3 separate regions of the Homo sapiens genome follow, and regions 1 and 2 are each linked to region 3. The links come from fine-mapping of genetic effects on gene expression. A gene starts in region 3. Each other region holds a variant in brackets. All regions are shown on one strand. Distances are between the middles of the regions.

Region 1 (6,838 bases), 45 kb after region 3:
AAATCCAAGAGCCTCCTTGGCTCTGTGCGTCTGCCTCTTTGAGTGTCTGCAGCACCAGCTCTCCACTGGTTGTTTTAGAGTTTCAGGGTCTTAATGATGTCGAGACCGTAATGGTGCCAGGGCATTGGTGCTGGTTATTGGTTCCACAGGTCACTCCTGGGCTGGCCCTCAGTCTTGTCCACATGGCTCTGGGGAGGTATGGGGGTCACTCTGCCGCTTCATGTCACAGAGCCCTCCATGCCCCGTCGAGTCCTGTCCACGCAGGCCTTCTCTCTTGGGTTGCTCCTCCTGAGACCCATCCCTTCTCTGTTCTCATCCTCTCCCCTCCAACACCAGCCCAGGAAAAACCTTTCCTACATTTTGGGTCCTTACCTGTAATCTCCTCTGTTCTTCCCAAATGTTTAGACTTTAGGGATTGGAAGCTGGGAGTTCTTAGACTGCTATCGACTTTCTTTCCTTCCACCACTTTCTTCAGTAAAGGAGCACAGAGCCCAGGATCTGCTTTAAAGGGGCGGAAGGAAAAACGGGGCAAGAATCTCGAAAACGTGGCCCCACTTCTGAGTGCTCGTCACCTGGCACAATACCTGGTACACAGCAAACAATTGTTAAACCAAAAAAAAAAAAAAAAAAGCTGGGCACAGTGGCTCATGCCTGTAATCCCAGCACTTTGGGAGGCCGAGACGGGTGGATCACCTGAGGTCAGGAGTTCGAGACCAGCTTGACCAACATAGAGAAACCCTGTCTCTACTAAAAATACAAAATTAGCTGGGTGTGGTGGCACATGCTTATAATCTCAGCTACTCAGGAGGCTGAGGCAAGAGAATCACTTGAACCCAGGAGGTGGAGGTTGCAGTGAGCGGAGATCATGCCATTGCACTCCAGCCTGGGCAACAAGAGTGAAACTCCATCTCAAAAAAAAAAAAAAAAAAAAAAAAAAAGAAAAGAAAAGAGAAACATGGCAGCAAGAGAATGAATAAATGCAGGCCACCTGGCTCAGAGCCGCAGGACTTGAATTCAGATCCCAGCCCCCTGGCTGACCTCCCTGTGTAAGTTCTACTGACCTAATCCATAAAGGAGGGGAGGGATGAGTTCATCGCTGGGATTCCTTCCAGCCCCCAAACTCAATATTTTGTATCCACATAGGAAAAAGAAAGAATATTTATGCAGTCGTCCCACTGAACTGGAGCAGGGAAGAAACCTGCCTGGATGATTCAGGCTCACATACACAATCATCTCCAAATATGCTTCCCTTCTGTCAAATGCCATCTCCTAAATATCACCAGAGCAACCTGCGGAGAAGGCAAGGCTGAGTTGATTGTTCACCGTGGTAAGGTAGAGTACCCCCTCCACAAAGCCTCAGTAGCTTCCCAAAGTGGGAGGGCAAAGTGATTTTTATTGAGACTTTGAGGCCTGGTTTAAGGTGGCTCTTTCAGTGCAGAGGTGGCATGCTTGATGGGGGTTGCTAAGATCATGATTGGTAGACACAGCAAAGTGAGGATTTCTGGCTGAGGCGTTCAAAGAACCTTGGGGTATAAACTGTCTTCCTATTGAACCTATAAACTGATGCTTCCTGTTGAAGACATGGTGTGTCCTTCAGGAAGTTCCTGGGATGAACAGTAGAGTTATTTACAGCTTTTATCTTCCTGGGCAAGCATTTTCTGGAATAATAGTGAAGTTACTTTGATGAGGACAGTGGAATAGTAAAGTCATGTTAATATAGACAGTGAGCTATGAGTGGTTTGATTCTCATCCCAAGCTGTCTTGGTTCGCTGTTTGAATGACTGTGATGTCCCCTCCACCAAGAAGGCTGACGCCTATGAACATGTGTACTCCCTTTCCCTCTTGGTCCAGCTGGATTTGGCCCATGAAGGCAGGGAGCAGAGTGAGGCTGGAATATTCATTTCTGTTCTCTTTCTGCTGGTATTACCCAGCAAGCAATGGGCTCACTGCCTGATGCACACACAAGCCAATACCATGGCACTGAAAACCTTTATTGGGAATTGACTGGCAAGACAGGAGGCAAGGCTGAAATCTATGTCGCCTAGCTGGTGGGCTGGGGCAGGTTTTATAGGCGAAGGGTAATGAACCATGATCTGATTGGATCTTGCAATGAGGTGATGCTGGGGAGGCATGATCTGACTGGATCCTGCCACGGGGTGACACTAGAGCTCAATCTGATTGGATCCTGGATCCTGCCATGTGCAGTCCACCTCTGAAAGCAGTCCTTGCTCCCGGCTTCCAGCACTTAGGTTCCACTTGTGGTTGCACACTTGGTTCATCTGGGCATGTTCAGGTTACTTGACTTTCAACTTGGGGATCCATGGCAACCAAAAAACAACTCACGACTTTGTTACATAAAAGTTGAACCAGGGCTGGGCACGGTGGCTCACGCCTGTAATCCCAGCTCTTTGGGAGGCCGAGGTGAGCAGATCACGAAGTCAGGAGATCGAGACCATCCTGGCTAACACGGTGAAACCCCGTCTCTATTAAAAGTAAAAAAAATTAGCCAGGTGTGGTGGCAGGTGCCTGTAGTCCCAGCTACTCAGGAGGCTGAGGCAGGAGAATGGTGTGAACCTGGGAGGCGGTGCTTGCAGTGAGCCAAGATTGCGCCACTGCACTCTAGCCTGGGCAACAGAGCGAGACTCTGTCTCAAAAAAAAAAAGAGTTGAACCAGATTGGTCTGGTGTGATTACACTGGGTTGCCCTGGGTTGGTTGCCTCCGCCTGTTTCAGCCCTCAGCTCCTATCACCAGCCTTCTCAATAGCTTCTCTCTTGAGTTGGGGTAACTGCTCCCCGACTTGCCCTTTTATGCCTAAGGGAGCCTAGCTCCTAGTATCCCATGTGGCTCTTTCTCTCATTTCTTATTCCCAATGAGCATGTGTTGCTTTCCTAAAGGCATTTCCATAACATTATACTTTTAAAGTCAACTGTGTGTGAGTATAAATGCTATTGGACATCAGGGGAGAACTCGGAAAAAAAAAATGTTCATTTTTATTGATAAACTTTTTAACTAAGGCAATTTTCAAAGAAAGCTAAAATCATGACATTCCTACAAACATAAAATGGACATGTTAAAATTGTATTTAGTGCATCATTAATGAAGGCTGGTAAGATGTGACAACCGGTTCAAATGAGAAGTCAAAAGAGGCACAAATTTATATGGAGAAAAGCAATGTTGAAGTGTATTTACGAATAGAAGGAAATATATTTACGAATAGAAGGAAACATATTTCAAATAGAAGGAAACTGGCTTTCCTTTGGAAAATAGGAAGTAAATTGAACCACCTCGGGACAGAATGTATTTGCATGCCTGCAAACAGGAATTATTTACATTGCTATCAGTTATCTACAATTTACAGATTTGAAAAATAGCTCAAAGGCAATGAATGGCCCAGAGACCCTAAAGCATCGCACTCAGATAACCTGGAAGGGTATGCTCTAAAGGATACACAGTTTCCCAATGAAGCACACATTTTTTCCTACGTGACATTTATTAAGCAGTTAATACTTGCAGGCAGTGATCCAATCCATGGGGACTGATAGTCTGCTTGGAGATTTAAGACACAAAAGAGCTGAGCCGTCTCCCTCCAGCAGTCTGATTAGTGGAGTGTTTATTATACTTCCTCTCAGTGACATAAAGATACTCCAAATTGAGTTCCATCATCAAGCTTTCCTCTTGAGAAAAACAAAAGTTTCCACTGCTTTCAAAAGTTTGAAAGCCACCAACCCATGTCCAGCAGGTTCATTTTATAGAAGAGAAAATGAAGGCTCAGAGAGGAAATGTGGTCTGCCCTGGGGCGCGCAGCTTGTTAACTCATGTCTGGTCGGAAGATGGGCTTTCAGGGCCGAGAAGGTGCTCCTTTTTGGCATTATTAGGTGACAGAAAGAGCTCCTGGAAGGGAGGATTTAGGAAGCAGGCTGTGACAGATGGTTTTCATCTCCTGTGCTCTGGGAAATC[G/A]CTACCACCCTCTAATTGGATGTTGGGAGCTTCAAGCAAACTGGCAATCTACATTGTATCATTGTTCCGTATCCCTAATTATCCCTTGGGATTTGGCTTAAGTGCAGCTTAGAGGATGTTCATTAATAGTGTCGACAGGGACACTCAGCATTTGTAAAATTCTTTACAATAATTGAAGACCTAGCATTGTTCTGGTGTGGTAAGGAAGCATGTTTGCTCCCAGCCGAAAGATGACTTAAGCTAAGAGGGTGGAGACTGGCTGACTTGGGAGTTGTTTTTCTAACGTCCAGGTCTGAACTCACAGTTCTACAATCCTTGTTTTCACCGGCTCAAGGAAGCTCCTTGATGAATTACATGAGTTCAGCTTACTAATGGGCTTACTTCACCAGAGTCAGAGTGATCTGTCCTTGGCATTTCATAACCCACTTCAGTTTCCTATCTCTTGGCCACCGTATTGTCAAAAACCTCATATTCCTGTGGCCATGACCAGTTCCAAAAGAAGCTTTGTCTCCACAGACAGATCGTGGTTCCATCTGGGCCTACCACCAAAAGCCTTGTGATTCCAGATGGAAAAATCCCCACACCCCCCCCCGTTTCCAAAGCAGCCCCCCATCTCGATTGTTTTATCTACAGTCAGCAGCACGAATCCTCCACAATCAGAGTCTCTCCGGGGGTGGAAAGAGTGGCTAATGGGGGATACAGCTCATCTTCAAACCCTGTGCCATGTGAATGGAAAAAAAAAATGCACACATCTGGCTGGGTTAGATAAAGAGGAGGGCTGGGGCAAAGAAGCCGGGAGTGGTGGTGGGGGCTTCCCTCTATCAAAGAAAACATTAAGAAAAAGGCTGCTTTTATTGCAGAGGAAAATTAAAACTTTACATTGTGACTGGAGCTGTTCAACCATCTACATTTGGCTGGGCACGATGGCTCACGCCTGTAATCCCAGCACTTTGGGAGGTCGAGGCGGACGGATCACCTGAGGTCAGGAGTTTGAGACCAACCTGGCCAACATGGTGCAACCCCATCTCTACTAAAAGTCCAAAAATTAGCTGGTCATGGTGGCAGGCGCCTGTAATCCCAGCTACTCAGGAGGCTGAGGCAGGAGAATCGCTTGAACCCGGGAAGTGGAGGTTGCAGTAGCCAAGATCGTGCCATTGCACTCCAGCCTGGGCAACAAGAGCGAGACTGTCTCAAAAAAAAAAAAAAAAAAATCTACATTTTTGTTGTTGTTGTTTTCAAAAGATATCCTTGAGGAACCCCAAGTATTTGGCTGGAATCCTTTGGTGACAGCCAGTTTCCTTCCAGGAGGTTGGAACAGAGCTGCATGTGTGTACATGTGTTTGGGGGGATACAAGGAATTGAGTGGTTTTCTTTCAATCATAGCCTCACCCTCCTGCCATTTGAGGAAGACGGAGGGAGAAGGACAGGATGGGAGGAGATAATTTCTGAAAAAAATTTTTTTTTTTTTTTGAGTTTCACTCTTGTTGCCCAGGCTGGAGTGCAATGGCGTGATCTTGGCTCACTGGAACCTCTGCCTCCCGGGTTCAAGCGATTCTCCTGCCTCAGCCTCCCAAGTAGCTGGAATTACAGGTGTGCACCACCACGCCTGGCTAATTTTTGTATTATTAGTAGAGACGGAGTTTCACCATGTTGGCCAGGCTGGTCTTGAACTTCTGACCTCAGGTGATCCACCCACCTCAGCCTCCCAAAGTGCTGGGATTACAGGCGTGAGCCACCATGCCTGGCCTGATGATTTCTGAATTTGAGGAATGAAATTTCAGCTGCCAAAGAGCACCTGGAGATGTGTTTCCTCCTCCCACACCCTCTTTCTCTCCCCACAGCCCCTACTTACCCCAGTCCCCAGAACCGCCTCCCCTGGAGGCATCTGGGACATCATTCTCACTACTCATTTCCTCCTTCCTCAGCTACAGGGGAGGCCAGCTTTCTGGTCTTCTGTTGCCCATATTGGACTTTATTTGGTGCTCCAAAGGGAGGTAGAAATTGCAAAGGACTCCCCTGCCCTTGCATATTCTGTAGATTCCCATCGCATGCTTCAAATAAGCCGTGTCCATTCTTCCCCCAGAGCCTTGCCTCTGTACCACCCCAGCTTCCCCCACTTCCTTTTTGCTGAGAACTTTCTCTGTATTCATGAAAGTTCTCCCTAATAGCCTGAATAAAATAATCTCCTTAATTATCCGGGGCATTTCTTTCACCCTGTACTGCCCACACCAGGAGTCTGAAATAGAACCATAAGCACCTTCAGCGTTAAGACAGGGAATTACCTTAAGTGGTTTCAGGAAAGATGTGAGCAGGAGCTACTTAATGGGGTGAAGGTGAGGCTGCCTTGAAGATGAACCCTCCTTTTGGGCAGTGTTTCACTTCAAAACCTCAGAAGCGGTGACCCTAAGGAGATTTTTATTAACACACCTACGAAGCAAACATAAACCCCCCTCTGTGTGCGTGTGTGCACGGATGTGTGCTGGGGGGCAGTGCAGGAGAGGAGGGGGTGCTGGAGAATCTCCAGGTGAAGGGGGATGCAGTTTTGTTCCCATTACAAAGACCCCTTGTCAGCCCGCTGGCCAGGCTGAAAGCGCCGGCCACTTCCCATTCAATGCCAGCTCTCCTAAGTGGGCCGGGTGGCTGTGGCCTCGGTTAGGGCGGTTGTATATTTGCACAGATCTGCCATTTGTCATGTTCCCAGAGGTCTTCAGGACAATGACTTTTGTGGGGGTATGCTGGAGGAAGGTAGCTTTTCAAAATTGGGAACCTTTTCGGCTTGCTAAACGGAAAAGGACAATGGCCTCTTTGTCCCTAGTGTAAGACAGCTGTGGGGAGCCCTAGGAACCCACCAATGGTAACTTTAAAATGCTGCCTTAAAGG
Region 2 (6,838 bases), 36 kb after region 3:
AAGGAATGTCAGAATGATCTTCTTGCACCTGCTGTTTTTCAAATGCCTTTAACTCAAAATAGTCAATATGCCAGGGCAGCATATTTTGGGGAAGGCATGTTCTTATCTCCTTCAGTGGGAATGAGACAGTTGGAAACATTGTATGATTTGGAGAGGAAGCCCTGCATTTTCAGAGGCCTTTGTTTTGGGTGTGCCTTAACTGCACCTGCATTTCTTGCCGTTTCTTACAAAGAAACTTCCTTTTGAGAATCAAAATATTTCAGCTGAAGTTATTTTCAACCACAGGGAAATGTTTGAAATGTCAGCCTTTGTTAGCCCAAAGAATATTGTTTCATGAACAGTGATCGAAATAGTCATTTCCTTTGGGAAGCCTCTGCCATTGAAACAAACTTTGATTTTGGAAGCAAAATTTTGGCTTTAAAGATGTCATCCAAGTGTTACAACTTTTTCTAATAGCTCCCTGGCCATGTATTGTAGAGCTATGATAGGTTGTTTGGGTTTGAACAAGAAAACATGTTCTGGCTAGGTTGGGCAGTGTTAAGAGGAGGGACAGTATAGTGGTGGGGAGCAAATCCCTTACAGCCGGGCTGCCTGGATTTGCAATCCTCGTCATGCCACTGCAAGCTGACTCTTCGGCAAGTTATGTAACTGTTCTGGTCTCAGTTCCTGCATCTATAAAATAGGGGTGATGGTAGTATTTACTGCCTATGATTGTTATAATTATTAATTAGTGTATTAAAAAGCACTTAGAGGCTAGCACAGAGGCTAGGCGTTATAATTATTAATTAGTGTATTAAAAAGCACTTAGAGGCTAGCACAGAGGCTAGGCATGGTGGCTCATGCCTGTAATCCCAAAACTTTGGGAGGTGAAGGCAGGAGAATTGCTTGAGGTCAGGAATTTGAGACCAGCCTGGGCAACATGGTGAGACTAAGTCTCTACAAAAAATACAAAACTTAGCCAGATATGGTGCTGCACACCTGTAATCCCAGCTACTCAGGAGGCTAAGGTGGGAGGATCGTTTGAACCCGGGAGGATAAGGCTGCAGTGAGTCGTAATTGTGCCGCTGCACGCCAGCCTGGATAACAGAGTAAGACCGTGTCTCAAAACAAAACAACAACAACAACAAAACAACAAAAAAACAAAAAAAAGCACTTAGAGATGGCTAAATGCTAATCCAATAAGGGCTGTAGTTTAGTTAATAGTATTGCATTCATGTACATTTCCTGGTTAGATACAGGAGTGCTGGGAAGGGAAGGGTGTAGTTCTTTTAAATGATAGGGAAGGGAGAAGGGAAGTGCTGGGTAGAGGAGGGCGTGGTCTCTGGCTAGGGCTCCACCCCCACCGACCTAGGTGAGGACAGGAATTTACTGCCCAAATGTTGCATTTTCCAAGACCACCCTGGCCTGCCATGCCCCCATCCTGTGCCTATAAAAACCCGAGACCCTAGCAAGGCAGAAACAGCAGCAGCTGGAAGTCAAGAGGAGTGCTCTGTGGAGGAACACACCCACAGGCACCAGCATGCCGGCAGGCCACTGACTGGCAAAACAACGCGGTGTTTGGCTGGGGCAGTCGGAGGAGCGCTCGGGCCGCCAAGCAGACCGACTCCAGGGAAAACCATCTCCCTTCTGGCTCCCCCATCTGCTAAGAGGTACTTCCACTCAGTAAAACCTTCCGCTCATTCTCCAAGCCCACATATGATCCGATTCTTTGGTGCACCAAGGCAAGAACCTGGGGATATAGAAAGCCCTCTGTCCTTGCAATAAGGCAGGGGTCTAATTGAGCTGACTAAAACAAGCCACCTATAGCCGGCCAAACTAAAAGCAAAACTAAAAGAGCACACTGGGCTAGGTGCGGTGGCTCACGCCTGTAATCCCAGCACTTTGGGAGGCCTCATGAGGTCAGGAGTTTCAGACCAGCCTGGCCAAGATGGTGAAACCCCGTCTCTACTAAAAATACAAAAATTAGCCGGGCGCGGTGGCGGGCGCCTGTAATCCCAGCTACTCGGGAGGCTGAGGCAGAAAATTGCTTAAACCCGGGAGGCGGAGGTTGCAGTGAGCCAAGATCACACCGCTGCACTCCAGCCTGGGCAACAAAGCGAGACTCGGTCTCAAAACACACACATACACACACACACACACACACACACACACACAGTAACACGCCCACTAGGGCTTCAGCTGTAAACATTCACCCCTAGACACTGCCATGGGGTCGGAGGCCCATAGCGTGCCTGTCTGTATGCTCCCCTACAGGTTTGAGCAGCAGGGCACTGAAAAAGCAAGCCACATCCCCATCGCACGCCCTGCAAGGGGGACAAGGGAACTTTTCCCATTTCAGTTGTGATGATTGTACTATGAATATGCAGGATGTTACCATTGGAGGAAGCTGGATTAAGGGTACACGGGAACTATATAGTATATCTATGTGCACTTCTACATGAGTCTAAAATTATTTTAAAAATACAAAGTTAAAAAGTACTTAGGGAAACTATATTTGGTAGTATGATTCTTTGAGTAAGGTTTGTCTTTGACAGGAGACTGTGGACTGTAAACTCTCTGAAGTTAAGGACTATTACTGTTTTCCCCAGCACCTAGTACAGTGCATGGCACATAGTTGGTCTTCAATAACTATTTGCTGACTGAAAATGAATAAAGAAGATACTAAGGGTACCGGCCAGCAGAACTTTAAGCAACAAAAGAGAGACAAACCAGTTCCTGCATTAAGGTGGGAGGAAAGAGGTGAGAGGGCCATGCACCAATATTTGGTAAGACCTTCAAAACACATGCACACACACATGCATGCCCGCAAACACATGTACACACACAACATGCACCTGCCCCTGTGCAAATTAGGGAGTGGTTTGAGTGCCACGGATGGGTCAATGGTATGTGTGCCAACAGCAACAACAGCAGGATGGCAAGGTGATTCCTAAAGTGATGTGATTCTGCAGATGCAGCTCAGAGCCAGTGGTGAGCACAAGAATTTGGGATGAATCCATGTTATCTGGATTTTGGGTGGCTTGGTGAACCCAGCTGACAGTTTTAGTAAATAAACCTAGACGATCTTTTTCTGTACTCAAATGTTAAATGTAAGGACAATTGTTTAAACATCGTTCTAGTCTAAGGAAAGCTAGAATGCTACCTAGTTTGCTAGAATATACCCAGAAACAGGGGAAGAGGGTTGATATGGTTTGGCTGTGTCCCCCGCCAAATCTCATCTTAAATTGTAGTTCCCATAATCCCCACGTGTCATGAGAGGGACTTGGTGGGAGATAATTGAATCATGGGGGAACTTATCCTCATGCTGTTCTC[G/A]TGATAGTGAGTTCTTACAAGAGCTGATTTATAAGGGGCTTTCCCCCTTTTTGCTTGGCACTTCTTCCTGCCACCATTTGAAGAAAGATGTGTTTGCTTCCCCTTCCATTGTCATTGTAAGTTTCCTGAGGACTCCCCAGCCATCTGAACTGTGAGTCAATTAAACCTCTTTCCTATATAAATTACCCAGTCTGGGGTATGTCTTTATTAGTAGCGAGAGAACGGACTAACACAGGGTCAAATTCAAGAATTAAGCTATGCTGCTGGTAATATCAGGGTCACACCACATATGTGATAAGCCTATCAGAACATCACAGGGTTTAAACTGATACTACCATTTATGATTTGGAAAGGTTCTAGAAATTAAGAGATGCTTTGCTGCATTTGTAACTCTAAGAAATACAAAAGGTTTGGGTGTGAATTAGGTTTCTCTATTATATACAGGGTGTTAAATCAGACTTTGCAAACAATCCTAGGCAAAACTTACAAGGTCTGAAAGCATTTCCCAGAAGCTATTCACAATGCCTGACTTAAATACTCTGTATATAAAATTATAATGTAAAACTGTTGTTCCAATTTTTTTTCATAAAAGCCAAATACTTAAAACTCGATGTTTTATTTCAATATCTATCATATCATTGGGCAGGTTAGGATATGTAACAAATATTCTAAGCTCCTAAGAATGGATGGAACTATGTCACCTGTCTGTGTCTTAGCTGCCCAGGTAGAAACTTGGTTCTTTAAAGCTGTAGGGGAAGAAAATCTTTACCTCAACCATCTTAGGGTTACTGGTTGGGACTGATAATTAAGATGACATAGGCAGATGAACAGGAGAAAAGCACACAGGTTTTGACATGTACATGGGATCCCCCAAAGGAAAATGAAGATCTAAAGAACTGGCAAAACCTAAGTGCTTATATACTAGGTTGAACAAAGAGAGGCAATTGTGGAAGAGTAACTAAAATATACATGAGGACTAAAAGAACGTAAGAATTATTTTAACAAGGTCTGTATGTACAGATTTCTCTTGGTCTCAACTTCCTATCTCTGATGATAAGAATGTTTCTTTCCTCCTGGTATAGGGAGGGGACCTTTCACATGGGAGATTTATCTCCTGTTTTTAGGAAGAAAAGGGGAGGTCAGAGCACCCCTTTTGCAAGTGCCTTTAGTTCAAAATAATCAAGGCAAGTGGCATATTTTGGGGATGGCATATTCTGCCACCCTTCAAAGCCATGGACTGTGTGTATGACTGTGGATCTATTTTTCATGTTCTCCATCCCCTTCCTATATACCATGTTGTTTTGCAAATAGTTGATGCACAGTGAATTTTGGTAGATTTTTAAAAGCTCTTCACTGTACTCTATTAGCACAGATAGTCTTACTATTCAGTTGCATTTCTAAATGCTGTTAGTGCAACTATTACAAATGCAATATGTGTTCATTGCAACAAGTGGAAAAAGTACAGAAAAGTGTAAGGAAAATAAAAATCCATCATGATTCCACTGTATACCAATAATCACTGCTGACAGTTTCACATATACCAGACTCAGATGTTTTTGTGCATGAGTGGATTTATATAGTACACAGTTGATAACCTGTTTTTTTTTCTGAGTATTGTCTATAGAATTCCCATCATTAAGTATATATCAACATCACCATCTTTACTGACTTCATAGTATTCCATTTATGTATGTGCTGTAATTTCAATCCCTATTGCTAAATATTTAGGGTATGTCCACATTTTCTCTACTATATGCTGCAATTCAGCAAATATCTCTGAACATACATTCTTGGGAAAAGTTCTCAAGAGTGAAATTGCTGTTACTTTCAGTTTAAAATTTGATTATACTCCAAGTTGTTTGATTTTTAAGGATGTTGAACACCTGTACATATGTCTAGTTTCCCTACTTTGAATATAAGCTTCTAGAATAGAAGGAAGAAATCAAATCTTGGAAGTCTCTGTATCCTCTACAAGTCCTAGCACAGCTCTGGGTGTTGGAAATGCTTTTGACTGCAAATCATGGAACACCTGTGCAAGAGTAGCTTAAATCAAAAAGCCACTTAATCATCGCCCATAATTAAGAAGCCTGGGTGTAGACAGTTCAGGGGTTCGTGCAGCAGCTCAGCGAGGTCCTTCCACCCTTTTGGCTTTAGCACACTTCCTGCCCTGCCTGAGCGCCAGCACATTGTCTTCACTCGGCACGCCCAACCCAATCTAGAAACAAGGAGGTGGGCAAAGGAGCTCTCCTCTTGCCCCTCTTTTTTTTTTTTTTTTTTTTTTTTTGAGACAGAGTCTTGCCCTGTCGCCCAGGCTGAAGTGCAGTGGTGTGATCTCAGCTCACTGCAACCTCTGCCTCCCAGGTTCAAGCGATTCTCCTGCCTCAACCTCCTGAGTAGCTGGGATTACAGGCACGCGCCACCACGCCTGGGTAATTTTTTGTATTTTTAGTACAGACGGGATTTTGCCATGTTGCCCAGGCTGGTCTTGAACTCCTGAGCTCAGGCAATCCGCCCACCTTGGCCTCCCAAAGTACTAGGATTACAGGCGTGAGCCACTGTGCCTGGACTTGCCCCTCTGTTTTTATCAGAGAGGAAAAGATTTTCTAAAAACAACCCAGGAGAATTTTTTTTGTATCTTATTGACTAGGCTACTTCTAGCGCAGAAGAGGCTGGGAAGGTATCTTTGGCCTTTCATCCCCTATGATGAAAGGCAAGCTCATGGGAAGGAGTCAGGGAAAGACTGTTGCGTTGGCCACCAACAAAAATGGGGCCCAGTGATAGGACTGAACATATTCCCAGAGTTGGCATGTAGATCATCTCCTGCCCCCACTCCTCTTCATCTCTCAGGGAAGAAAACGAGTTTTTATGGTGTCACCAGCCATGGGATCTCTGGGGACCCAGTGTCACCAATTCTGCCTCCCTCCTTAGCGTTTTGGTGGGGCTTTCCTGTTCTTGTGGGTGTCCTCCAGGGGAGACTGGTCCTACAGGGGGCCCAGGGCTGTGGGAGGTGCCGTCAGGGCATCTCAGCAACTGAGAGAGACTTGGGCCACACCCGTTTTTCAAGCTCCCTATAAATTAAAAATACAGGAGAAGAACCCTAACAGCATTATAAAGTTTGCAGTTTGGCCCGGCCCGGTGCCTCATACCTGTAATCGAGCACTTTGGGAGGCCAAGGTGGGCGGATCACCTGAGGTCAAGAGTTTGAGACTAGCCTGGCCAACATGGTGAGACCTCGTCTCTACTAAAAATACAAAAATTAGCTGGGTAGGGTGGCAGGCGCCTGTAATCCCAGCTACTCGGGAGGCTGAGGCGGAAGAATCGCTTGAACCCTGGAGTCAGAGGTTGCAGTGAGCTGAGATCTTGCCACTGCACTCCAGCCTGGGCAACAGAGCAAAAACTCCATCTCAAAAATAAATAAATTAATTAAATAAAGTTGGCAATATATTTTAAATGTTTGCCACTAACAGATTCATTCCTTAATACAAAGAAAACACTGCAATAAAATTGGACACCATGGCCTTTAAAT
Region 3 (6,838 bases):
TAGAATGTTCACCATAGTATTCATTTTAGGAATAAAACTGGAAACAACATCCAACTCTAGGGGATTAGCTAAATAAATATTAAGTCAGTGCAGAGCACATTTATGCGGCCATTCCAAATCAATCTACATTTTGTTTCCCCTGGAAACATTAGGCAGTATTTAAACCTTCAACCTTTGATTCTCTTTTTCCCAGAAGACACTTTCTGATGGCTGTACCAATAACTTGGTAAAAACAAAACGGGCCACTTGTCCTCATGTCTAATTCACACTAACTTCCATTCTTCCTAGCCCCCTTCCTTCCAACCTGGGCAGGCAGGGCTAAGCACTGGGCTCTGAACTCAGTCCAAAGGGCTCTTTTTTGGAGATTTCAGGCCTCTGCATTTGGCAAAGTGCCTCCTAGTCTTGATCATGTTTTTTTTTTTTTTAATATCTGGCATGTATTTCCATATAGCAGCGTACAGCACAGAAACTCTCAAATACCCTTTCATTCAGCAAACACACACACTAGTGCCTGTTCTGTGCCAGGCACACAGGAGGCCTTGGGAAGACAAAGATGAATGAGATACAGCCTCTGTTTTCGTTGGTGACACAACTGAAGTATAGCTGTCATGGAGGAGGAGTTACAGCCAACACAGAAAAATTATTTCATTTTATGCTTCTCCATAAGACCTCTTCTAATGTGCTTGAATCTACTGTCCAACAGAGAAGAGGACCTGGACACTTCCCTCCACCACCACCCCCCGCCCTTCTCCTGAAGACCTGAAATTGAATCTCAGTTCTGCCACTTACTGGCTGTGGGATCTTGAGTTCCTACTTGAGTTTTCAGCTTTCTCATCTGTAAAATGGGAATCCAAACTGTACTTACGTCACAAGGCTGTTGGGAGAATTCAATGACATAATGCACGAAAATATTTTCTCAACATATGAAGCCCTGCATCTCCTTAGTCATTCATTACATTTGTCTGCTCACAGTTCTCTGGCTTGGCAAGTGTCATCAAGCAAATGAGACGTCAAGCCATCCTACTGTGTTTGTTAGTTCCATCTGCTGCTGTCCCCTCCTGTAAAACGTGGACATTTTAAAAGACAGCGGGGAGGGCCTCCTGGAGACAATGTATGTGAGCCTCCCTCCTAGAATGGCAGTGAGAGAAAGTTCTCCTAGACAGGTATGATATCACTGCATTTTAAAGATCTTACCGAGCCAGTGGTCCCCTGCCCCGTGGGAGGAGAGTGTGGCTTCACTCTTGGCCCCAAGGTCACTAAAACCTAGACTGTGCTATCACCCCCCTGACCCGTGTGTCTCACCTTGGGCAGGTCTGTGGCCCCACGGATCCGTTGCGCCACCTTCTCTCCATCGGGGTGGATCTTGGCCACGTGTTTCCACATCCTTTCCCAGGTGGCCTCATCCACAGGTAGCCCACCCCGGTTGACAAAGAAGGGGACGCCTCCGTCTCGCAGGTCCTCTTCCCCTTCCTCTTCTGGCTCCTCATCTCTCTGGGCTGAGGTTCCTTCGCTGGTCTCCAAACGCCTGACCCCAGAGGGGGCGGTGGCCGCAGCGGACGTTGGAGTGGCACCGCTGCTGCCACCCCCAGCCACCTTCTTCCCCCCTGGCATCCCTAAATCTTCGAGGGGGGTGGTGGAGGCGGGAAAACAACTGGCTCACAAGAGGCCTCCCACACACCGGCTGCAGAGATAACACATGGCCAGAGTGCAAGGCGCCTTTAAGAAATCAGGGCGTGGCTCCTGTACAATAAAATACGACTTGATAAAAAAAATCAGTGCAATAAGGTGAATTAGGGTCCGAGGGGGTGGGTTGTCTGGGGTCAGCCTTGGAGGCCTTGTTCTGTTTGAAAAACGGAATAAAGAGAACACACCCCAACTTGGCAGCCGTCACAAAGCACCCCCATCTAACTGCGAGAACAATGACGGGCAGCAGTGAGGGCTGGCAGAGCGGAGAAAAGTCGGAGGGAAACTGAGGCCAGACAGCTCGGACCAGCGGCTGCAGAAAGGACAGAGTCAAGGCACGGGTGCCCACTGGGCGCCCTGGGTCTCAGTTTCGGAGGGAACAAAATCCCCTACACAACTCTCGCACGCTCACATCTGCGCGCGCCCCAAGGAAGACCGAGGCGACTCCCGGCCGCGCGAGCTCGGAACCAAGACCCCCGGGCGGGAGAGCGGCGCTGGGGGGCGATTTCTCCGACGCGACGAGACAAGTCCGGGAGCCAAGACTCGCAGCTGGCCGGGAGCGGGGAGGGGGCGCGCGCCGACGCGCACATTCCCCGCCTGCGGCCAACTCCCTGCACAAAGTGGGCTTTGTCTGGGTCCCCTGTCCCCTCGTCCCCAGAAACAGCGGCGGAGTCCCCAGAAAGGGAGCGGGCGCGGCGGGGAGGCGAAGGCTGCGAGCCCCGAGGCCCAGCGGGTCCCCACTCGGGCGCGTCTCAGCGGGAGGACGGCTGGCACCTGGCGCCGCGCTGCACCAGCCGAGCCATCGCAGGGCACGGGGCCCGCGGCTCAGCGGGACCGGCTCGGGCGGCGCGCAGGGGCCAGGCTGAGGTCACTGAGCGGCGGGCTGCGGCCGCGGGGTCGCTGCCTGGGACTGGCTGCAGCATGGGCGGTGGCGCGGCCCGGGCGGGCGGAGGATGCTCCGTGGCTGTTCGCTCGGGCTGCAGCTGCCCTGGCTGAGGGTGGAGGAAGGACCGCGGGGCGGGGACCGCAAGCCCGGAGGCTCGCGCAGCCTCGGCCGGCGGATGTAGCTGGAGGCGAGTGACGAAGCCGGGCGAGCGCGCGCTGCGCTGGTGCCTGGGGAGCAGCCCGCCAACGCGGAGCCCGCCAACGAGAAGCCCACCAGCCGATCGCTGCTCGGCGAAGCTGGGGCCGCCGCTGCTGCAGCCCCGCCGCCCCTGGGCCCCGCTGCCGCCGACCACGTCCCCTGCCAGCCAGCCGCCCACCAGGCTCGACTACGGCCCGCGCCGCGCATGCGCTCCGTCCCCCCCTTAAAGGGCCAGCGCCTTCGCGCCCAGTCCTCCGCCCCCCGCGGCGGTGCCTCTGTCCCAAGTTACCCCAAGGACGCCGGTGGGCATTCGCTCCCTCCTCACCCAGCTGTCAGGGCGCCGCGAAGCCGGTGCGAAGCTGCGGAGGACGTTTTCAACGTGCCAGAGGGAGCGCAAACTCCATGGAGATTCCTAGCGCAGAAGGAATTCCTGCGGTCGGGAATTTCTTGAAAAAGATTCTTCGCAGGGGCCCTGAGCCGGTAGGACCGAGAGCACTGGCCTGGAAGACTGGGATTCTAGACCGGATTCAGTGCCTGTGTTGCTTTGGGACGTTCAGCAGTTCCCTTCCCTCTGTAGGCCTCAGTTTCCCCATATCCCAGCCGAGGTGGTCACAGTGAGTGAGCGCAGAGTCCCTCCCAGCGCGCACAGTTCTTAGAGGAGGACATCTAGGGATTGAGACGGGGGGTCACTATCTCTGGAAACGAAAAGGGTTAAAAGTCACCCTGTTTTATTCGATTGCCTGCACTGGTGGGAATGGGGTGCGCAGAGCTCACCCCTAGACCATCTGCCTAGACCGGGCTTTGGACGCTCTGGACCCCGCGGACCAGGGTGGGACCGCGACGTGGGCGTGGGAGGCAATGCTTGGGGAGGGTCCGCTGGCCTAGAGGAAGGTGAAAGTACAACCAGCTGTGGTGCGTGGTTGGACACTGGACGCACCCTCCGCCTCCCTCATGCCATAGAGTTGTAAATGGTGGGAAAGGCACTATCTCTAGGCTGAAGCCAAGAACTTTAGGAAGAGACGGCCGAGTGTGTGCTTTAAGATGCTCCCCCTCTCCCCTGCCTGTAGTTAGCATGAATCACAGTCTTGTGGGAGAATGCAGATTCCTTGGCCTTAGCCGGCAGATTCAGATTCCTTAGTTGTGGGGTCGTTGCATTTCTTGACAAGCTGAGGTTACTACACAAGGGCTGGGTTAAAGGCCTTAGAGAGACCCCAGGGCCTCAGTGGTTTCACATCTGTTCTCTAAAGCTGTCCCTAGTATCTGAACTTTCTGGGTACCCTGTGCTCCCGTAGCAACCTCTTACTACCTCCAGGGTCAGAAACCAAGGGTTATCAGTGATGGGAAGGATTGCAAGACTCCAAGAAAGTTAGTTCAGCCTGGATCTTCTTAAACTCACTAAGGCAAGAAGACTCCAAGCGTAGAAAAATCACTAGGGATCAACAACTATCACCCTGTATTGTATAAACCAAGTCTCAGAGGGTAATTTCCCCAAACTCACACAGCTAGTAAGTGGCAGAGCTAGAATGTGAACAGAAGTCTTACTTCTTCAGACACTTGTTTTTCACTCTATACATTGCTTCTTGTGTTAGCCAAGTGGTGCTGGTTTTAAAATTGGCTTGCAAGCTCTTGACCATTCTTTTCAAAAGATGGGATCTAATTCCTTTCCCCCTGAATGTGGGATGTACTTGGTGACTGGTGTCTAATGAATAAAGTGTGATGAAAGTGAAGCTGTATGACTCTTAAGACCAGGCCATAAAAAGGAGACAGCTTCTTCTTGGTTCCTCAGAAGAAACCAGCTACCATGTTGTGAAGAAGCCCAAGCCACATGGTGAGGCCACATGAGGGTGTTCTCGCTGACAGCTGCTGCTGGGCTCTCAGCCAACAGCCAGAGTCAATCACCAGATCATGGCAAACCGAGACTTCAGGTCTTGCCAGCCCTCGGCCTTTAAGTCTTAGAGTTGAGGTCCCAGACATGGAGCAGAGAACAACCAGCCCTGCTGTGCCCTGTCTGACTTTCTGTCCCACAGAAATTGAGAGAGGATAAGTGACTATTCTCGTTTTAAGCTGCTAAGTTTTGGACTAACTTGTTACGCAGCATGAGATAATACCATGTGTTTTCTGAAATGACAAATAAAATAGATGTAGGGTATTCATTCAAAGAGTAAGTACTCATAGAACATCTTCTATGTGTTTGACTCTGTACTGGGCACTGGAGAAGCAGTAGTGAACAAGAGGGACATGGCCTTTGCTCTAGTTGGACTTATGGCCTACTAGTGGAGGAGATAGTTAAGCATGATTTCCATAAGGTGCTCTGCCAGAGGGTTATTCAGGAAGCTGTGGGAGTGCATACCCAGAGCAACTTCCCAATCAGGTGAGGAGCTGGGAAAAGAAGAAATGAGTTGGGTACAAGGTCAGCATGGACTAGGCTAGAGAATTTTCTGGCATGTGTGCATAGAAGTGGAAGAGGGTATGTGTCAGGCAAGGGGGCTTGCAAATAGATTAGAAAATGGTGAAACTGGAAAGAGATGTGTATAACCCAGTCTTATCTAAGCCAAAAGCCCAGAGAGAACAAGTGACTTAACCTGGTATGGCACAACTTTTGAATTGGTCTCAGATCCTGGGTCCTTCATCAAGCCCTCCCATGACTCCCCACACCTATGCCTTGGGAACAACTCCTCCAACAGACACTTGGGTAACTCCTTATTTGGCTCAAAGCTTTCGTGACCGTTATTTTTCTTTTTTTTCTTTTTTTTTTTTTTCCCCTGAGACAGAGTCTCGGTCTGTCACCCAGGCTGGAGTGCAGTGGCTCGATCTCTGCTCACTGCAGCCTCTGCCTCCCAGGTTCAAGTGATTCTCTGCCTCAGTTTCCTGAGTAGCTGGAATTATAGGTGCCTGCCACCATGTCTGTCTAATTTTTGTATTTTTAGTAGAGATGGGGTTTCACCATGTTGGCCAGGCTGGTCTCCAACTCCTGACCTCAAGTGATCTGTCTGCTTCGGCCTCCCAAATTGCTGGGCTTACAGGCGTGAGCCACCGCGCCCGGCCCTCATGACAATTATTCCTTTTGCTGTCTTCACAAAAACCGTGGAAGAGTTAGGATGAGTATGATTTCCATTTTACAGATGAAGAAAGGATGCATAAGAGAAGCTAGGCAAATTACATACCTAGTACAGGAGCAGGCACATCTGAGCTGCTGGGTACAAGTCACTTTCATGATGACAAGGATGACGATAATGACGCCTAACTCATATCATGTGTCACATTTGTTATCGTCACACTCTGGACTAATGGTCTGCAAATGAACGCATGTTGTCTTAGGGCATCAACACTCATATTAATCTGCTCTGACACATTTTCTATTCTTGTGACACAGAAGCTAGAGTGAAATTTCCAGAGAGAAGAGTCTGTTGACTTAGCTTGGATCCTTGGCTAGAGGAGGATGGGGCAATTTCATTAGCCAAGACTACAGGTGGTTGGGGGAGAAGGACTGCCCTAAAGGTAAATGGGGTGCTGTTAGTAAAAGAGGGGCATGGAGGCACACAGGTATAGATGTGTTTATAAAAGGTAGATGTTCTGACTCAACTTTTTGCTGTTTTCATGTTCATAATTTATGAGGTAAAAGAAGAAAAGAAAAGGAGTTTAATCCCAAGAAAGAATCACAGAGCAGAACTGTCCAATAGAAATTTCTGCAATGGGCCAGGCGCAGTGGCTCATGCCTGTAATCCCAGCACTTTGGGAGGCTGAGGGGGGTGAATCACGAGGTCAGGAGTTCAAGACCAGCCTGGCCAATATGGCAAAATCCTGTCTGTACTAAAAACTACAAAAAAATAGCTGGGCGCAGTGGCAAGCACCTGTAATCCCAGCTACTGGGGAGGCTGAGGCAGGAGAATTGCTTGAACTCAAGTGGCAGGGGTTGCAGTGAGCCGAGATTGCATCACTGCACCACAGCCTAGGTGATAGGGTGAGACTCCATCTCAAAAAAAAAAAGAAAAGAAATTTCTGCAATGGTAGCCAGAAGTTCAGTATGGTAGCCAGAAGTCATATGTGTCTATTTAAATTTGAATTTAATTA

Evidence for each region. PIP is the estimated chance that this variant, and not a neighbour inherited with it, causes the effect.
Region 1: its variant is fine-mapped to the expression of VASH1 in whole blood (INTERVAL, PIP above 0.99).
Region 2: its variant is fine-mapped to the expression of VASH1 in whole blood (INTERVAL, PIP above 0.99).

Annotation. Positions count from the first base shown.
Region 1 is chr14:76,713,080-76,719,917 of GRCh38, reverse strand. All of the region lies in intron 1 of LOC105370577 (a long non-coding RNA gene), which reads left to right. Among named protein-coding and RNA genes, the nearest start is that of VASH1, 45 kb to the left of the region's middle. The variant G/A (reference allele first, on the strand shown) is at 3,959.
Region 2 is chr14:76,721,330-76,728,167 of GRCh38, reverse strand. It overlaps LOC105370577 (a long non-coding RNA gene), which reads left to right and starts at 1,457. Exons shown (of 2, transcript XR_007064273.1): 1 at 1,457-1,649. The variant G/A (reference allele first, on the strand shown) is at 3,313.
Region 3 is chr14:76,757,595-76,764,432 of GRCh38, reverse strand. VASH1 (vasohibin 1) reads right to left here and starts at 2,965. Exons shown (of 7, transcript NM_014909.5): 1 at 1,303-2,965. The coding sequence starts at 1,611. RefSeq lists silencers at 2,439-2,708, 2,809-2,998.